Linked DNA regions of Homo sapiens: region 2 is linked to region 1. The links come from fine-mapping of genetic effects on gene expression. A gene starts in region 1. The other region holds a variant in brackets. All regions are shown on one strand. Distances are from middle to middle.

Region 1 (2,915 bases):
ATCCACAATTCCCTAATACTCTCAAACTCCCACATGCTGCCCTGGTTCCCAACCTGCCTTTCAGATTCCATTTCAAAATGCAAGATATCACAGATATGTTATACAAAGCAGAAGCAGTGAAAGCACAAGTTCAAATGTTCCTCATATTTTAACAAGGGTGACAAGGGGACGCTGACTCTTTAGACTTCCACAGGCTAACCTTAGGTGCTGGCCTTTTCATTTTGCCTGATTGATGGAAGATTATGGTTTGTCAAAATCAAGTGCTTGATCATGTATGAGACACAATATAATAAGACATAAATTCTAGACATATTAGGAACAGGGTCAAATGGGGGGAAATCCAGGAACTGCAACAAAGCTATTCCACATCACAGGAAAGAAAATATGATATTATCTTTCCACAGTAGACACCAAGTATATTTCTAAACAATGCAGATTTTTAAAAATCTCAAATATATTAACAACCAAAGCACAGAACTTTTAAATTCATAAATTACTGTCTAAAAAAAAAAAAAGAAATCCAGGCAAACTGCAGTACCAGAGAGGATGAATGGTCTCCTAGTTGAGCAAAGTTGCTGCATTTTTTGCCTGCAGGATGGGACCGAGCAGAGAAATAAAGGGGCTGTGTTGTGTGACAGGGAGTAAATCCTAACATGAGCATTCCAACGTGTAGCCGGGCCACCCCTCCCTTCCCCAGCCTGTCATCCTCCTGCAAAGTGTTCACAATTTGCTGTCCTTCCTTCCAAAAGCCAGTAGACACAGAATCAGCTTTTCCTGGCTCTGCCTTACAAGTTGGGGCTGCCTGATGGAAAACTGAAAATCCAACGGAAGGATAAAAATCCACCAAGGCCCCCTCTGCCAGCAAATTGGTGTGAAACCGTTGCTTCAGAAGCAGCCACTCCCACCCCCAATGAAATTAAAAAGAAGGACTCATTTGAATGTCTAAGTGGCTTTCTGAAGACCCTCTGTTGCAAAGCAACAGCCTCCCTAGTCAAGCGCCCGCCAGTACACCATTGCTCTGTAACAGATGTCTGCAAACGCTGGGACTATCTCGCAAGTGCCCCCCATGCCCGATTTGAAAAATTCACAAGCTCTGTCAAGCAATAATTACCTAGAGCTGCTGAGCGTTTGACCCAAGGGCCAAGCAGTCTGCTAGGAGTTTAAGAAGAGCTGGGGGGAATAAAATCATACAGGTGGAGCCTGCTTCCCACGAGTGCCCGGCATCCTGCTGGGGCCCTCGGGTGCCGCGCGCTCCAGCTCACCTGGTACACGTCCTGCAGCCCGCACCACGTCCGCAGCACCTGGTGGCAAGCCCGCAGCCTCTCCGTGTACCATCTCCGCAGCGTGGACACGGTCAAGTTCCATACGAAGCGGCTGCCGCTGAACAGCAGGTCCTCCACGCCACACATGAACACCGAAGCCATGCCTCCTCCTTCGCTCTGAACCCGGGCGTCCCGGCTCTCGTACGTGCAGCCCCGACCCCAGCGGCCTGCCCGCCTGGGCTCCCGACGCCGGCTTCTGCTGGCAGCCGGGGGGTCAAGCCTGCCACCAAACTCGTCTTTCACCGTGCGTCCTGGCCAGGCTCCGGCGGCATGCCCTGGGATTGGGTGCCCGCCAGCCAACGGCTGCGACTGGCACACAGAAGCCCAGTGTCCACCCCCGCCCGCTCGCAGCGCCGAGCAAGCTGTGCTAAGCTCCACCAAGCTGGCCCTCGATGCTCCCGGGGCACGGGAAGCCCTGGCCGGCGAGGACTCCCCCTGGCGCTTCCCCAGGGCGCGGGGCAGGGACGGAAGCGGAGCAACTCTTTGCAGGCAGAGAGGGGAGCTGCATTTCAGCACACTTGGCTTCCACGTCTTGCGCGCGCGCGAACACACACACACACAGACACACACCCCCCACACCGGACGAGTGGTCTCCTAATCTGCCTCGGGGAACACCTTACTCATCTTGCTCTGTTCACACTGATAAAACACCTCTGGGCAGCCACAGATGCAGAAGAGAGAGAGAGAAAAAAAAAAATCTCCAAGGCATCCCTTTGGACCCTACTCCTGGGGGAATAGCCACGAATGTTTCCTTGGTTCTGCTGGAAGCAGGAGATGAAGGCAACAGTCTCAAAGCAACAGGCGGCCCTAGAACCTGCCTTTGCTCCTAACTTGAGGGTCTCAGAGAAAATGACAGCCTCCTGTGGTTGCCAGCAGGAAGGCAGGTTTCCTCACACCAAGATGCTGCTAATACCAATGCAGCAGTCAGGGAGAAAAACAGAGTTCTTGGTCCCTTGTAAATAGCTTGCCGTTACTAGTGCTGGGAAACAGAAGCCCATAAGAGAATCGGTGGTTTAGTTCTGGAAAATTCAGCCTCTGGACATGTCTAACCTCACCTGCAAGCACCAACCTGCATGGGTAGTTTATTCTCCCCTCAAAACCAAAGGAAACTGTTCCACCACTCATGAAGTCACTAGATAATTAATCTTATTTATTTATTTATTAAAGTTTTCCCTCGGGAATTGATGCTGATTGTTGGAAACATTTGGAAAAGGGAGCTCAAGGAGTCTCGCCTACCACCAGTCTCTGTCTTCCTTTATTTATTTTTGAGACAAGGTCTGTTGCCCAGGCTGGAGAGCAGTGACTCAATCATAGCTCACAGCTGCCTTGAACTCCTGGGATGAAGTGATCCATCTTCCCACCTCAGCCACGGGGACTACAGGTGCTAAGTTTATTATCATTATTTTTTTTGTAGAGATGGGGTCTCACTATGTCGCCCAGGCTGGTTTCAAATGCCTGGGCTCAAGCAATCTTCCAGCCTCAGCCTCCCAAAGTGCTAGCGTTACAGACATGACCCATTGTGCCCAGCCTCCATTTTCCCTTAGAATGTATGAAGATTTCTCATAGCAAAAGTGCTGTAGCAAATTTCAGGAT
Region 2 (2,915 bases), 30 kb before region 1:
GTAAAATCAATCAGAGATGCCAGCCACAACAGAAAATCTTGGCAGAATGACGTGGTCTCAGAAAAGATTCATTTCACTATTTGCATTTAATGAAATCATTACTATTGAAGTCATTCAGTGAATAGGAAATAATCAAAATACATTATGCTTGAAGGCAGAGAGAAAAACATATAGAATACTGGAAAAATAATAAATTTACTTTTTTTAAAAAAAGAGAATGACTAAGTAAAAGTTTGTGACAGGGTATCATGCTTCTCCCTCCTGAAAAAAAGAACAGTCTGGAATTTTGCTCAGGAGTATGGTATGGTTAAGAATATAACCATAAGATTAAATCTCTAAGACTCTCTAGAGTCAGAGAAACCTCGTGTTTTACAGTTGTATATATCCTTGGGAAAGTTACTTGATCTTTCTGAGAATTGGTTCCCTCCTTTGTAAAATGGAGATAAAAATCCTGATCTCCTTCAGGAGTGCTGGGGAAATTAAAAGAGATAGTTCATGCAAAGCTCAAAGAATTTGCCTGGGAGATACCACAGGTATCTAAATATAGGGTGGGGTACCTCCCTTTACCCCCACAAAATGTTAATCCCTCAGAAACCGGGGAGTGGCTTTATCTTCAGATCCTTCTAAAGACTCTAATTACTATGACCACAATATACTGTCTGGGGAAGACATGGCAGCCTGTAACAACTTCAGTCAATGCTAAGTTTGGATGCAAATAGAAGTCACTTGATGATATCAGTAGAAAAGGTGGCAAAAAGTTTAATACATATTTAGTAATTATTTGTGAGCACGTGACCTCCCAATTGGACGGGTTGGATGTTAGAAGAAACAAGTTACTTAAACATTATTTCATGCACATATACTTGTAGGATAAATGGAAAAAGGAAAAAAAAAAAAGCTGGGCAATGATATTCCCAGAAAAGCATCATATATGGAGATTGAAAAAGTGCTATATAGCTCAAACAACTTGGGCAGAAGTGGAGATGCTGCGCTGTGATAAAAGGATGACTCAAAGAGGACTTTTGTTCCAGTGCCAGCACACACATGCACATGAAGAAGCTGAATAAAATTATCCTATCAAGAGGGAGAGCACAAGGCAGAAATCACTCCAGTTATTAATCTGCATAACAAGTGTTATGAGCACTCCTAATATTAGGAGTAAATTTTCTAATATTTCATATACATTTCTAAAATTTTATATAGGTTGACCCAAAACATTTGCCTGAGTCTTCTTGTTTGGAAGGTGGGGAATTATTGTATTACTTTATTTGACAGAAC[C/A]TTCTATTTGTTAATATATAACAGTAAAAACTCAATACATGGTACCTTTTCTTACTGGGTTGGAGAGTCGACTGAGAGAACTAGTGGGACATTTCTGATTGTATGGTAAAAATGTTTTCACTGTTGAAGGACAATCGGAATGTTGATAGCCAGTTTCAGCAGCAAGTTGGGCTAGATTAGGCAAGGCTAAAACCAGGAGGCCAGGGCAGCTTGAGGGCCAGATGAAGGTTGACAGACCAAATTAGGGGGGAGGCTGGGTAAGCTCAGGTTATGGTGTGAGAACACATAGAGATGGAGTCTACCAGGAGTATTAAAATTAGGAGGCCGGGCACAGTGTCTCACACCTGTAATCTCAGCACTTTGGGAGGCTGAGGTTGGCAGATCACCTGAGGTAAGGGGTTTGAGACCAGCCTGGCCAACATGGCGTAACCCCATCTCTACTACAAATACAAAAATTAGCCAGGTGTGGTGGCCGGCACCTGTATTCCCAGCTACTCGGGAGGCTGAAGCAGGAGAATTGCTTCAACCTGGGAGCCGGAGGTTGCAGTGAGCTGAGATCACACCACTGCACTCCAGCCTGGGTGACAGAGCAAGCAAGATTCCATCTCAAAAAAGAAAAAAAATTAGGAAACAGGATCCCCGCTTTTCTTTGGGGACACCATCCAAATAACTGGGGGTAGGGGGGAACCCCATATCCCCATATAAAGAAGATGAATATGTGATTCAAGACTGACCAATAAAATCACTCTACCCCCATGTGATGGTTAATACTTAGTGTCAACTTGATTGGATTGAAGGATGCCAAGTATTGATCCTGGGTGTGCCTCTGAGGGTATTGCCAAAGGAGATTAACATTTAAGTCAGTGGGCTGGGAAAGGCAGACCCACCCGTGATGTGGGTGGGCACCATCTGATCAGCTGCCGCTGTGGCCAGAATATAAAGCAGGCAGAAAAATGTGAAAAGACAAGACTGGCCTAGCCTCCCAGCCTACATCTTTCTCTCGTGCTGGATGCTTCCTGACCTGGAATATCAGACTCCAAGTTCTTCAGTTTGGGGACTCGGACTGGCTCTCCTTGCTCCTCAGCCTGCAGACGGCCTATTGTGGGACCTTGTTATCATGTGAGTTAATACTTAATAAACTCCCCTTTATATATAGATATATATATACACACACACATACATATATACACACACGTATATATACATATATATAATATATATACATATATATATAATATCCTATTAACTCTGTCCCTTTAGAGAACCCTTACTAATACACCCCATACCCATTAGTCATAGGGATCAGAGAAGAAGTATCTTTGTTTTTGTTTGTTCTGGAGTTACAAAGTTGCTTGGATGAAAATCTGGGGCTACCAGGAAACCTCATGCCAGACAGAAGAGTTGGAGAGAGACATACTCCAATGTCACTGTCTGAATTATGAAATGCCATTGAACCTGAAGTCATTCCCTGGCCTTTTCAGTTACTGAGTCTATAATTTCCGTTTCTGCTCAAGCTGGTTCTGATTTTTAAACAAAACTTTATTTGCAAACAAAAATATCCTATCTAATATGTCAGTTTGTGTGAGAAAGGATAATTGGAATCTGACACCATTAGTCCACTGACCAACACTGTTCAA

Evidence for each region.
Region 2: its variant is fine-mapped to the expression of FRMD4B in whole blood (TOPMed, PIP above 0.99).

Annotation. Positions count from the first base shown.
Region 1 is chr3:69,384,566-69,387,480 of GRCh38, forward strand. FRMD4B (FERM domain containing 4B) reads right to left here and starts at 1,523. Exons shown (of 23, transcript NM_015123.3): 1 at 1,263-1,523. The coding sequence starts at 1,424. RefSeq lists an enhancer at 990-1,600.
Region 2 is chr3:69,354,143-69,357,057 of GRCh38, forward strand. The region is part of intron 1 of FRMD4B (FERM domain containing 4B); the gene reads right to left. Among named protein-coding and RNA genes, the nearest start is that of FRMD4B, 30 kb to the right of the region's middle. The variant C/A (reference allele first, on the strand shown) is at 1,279.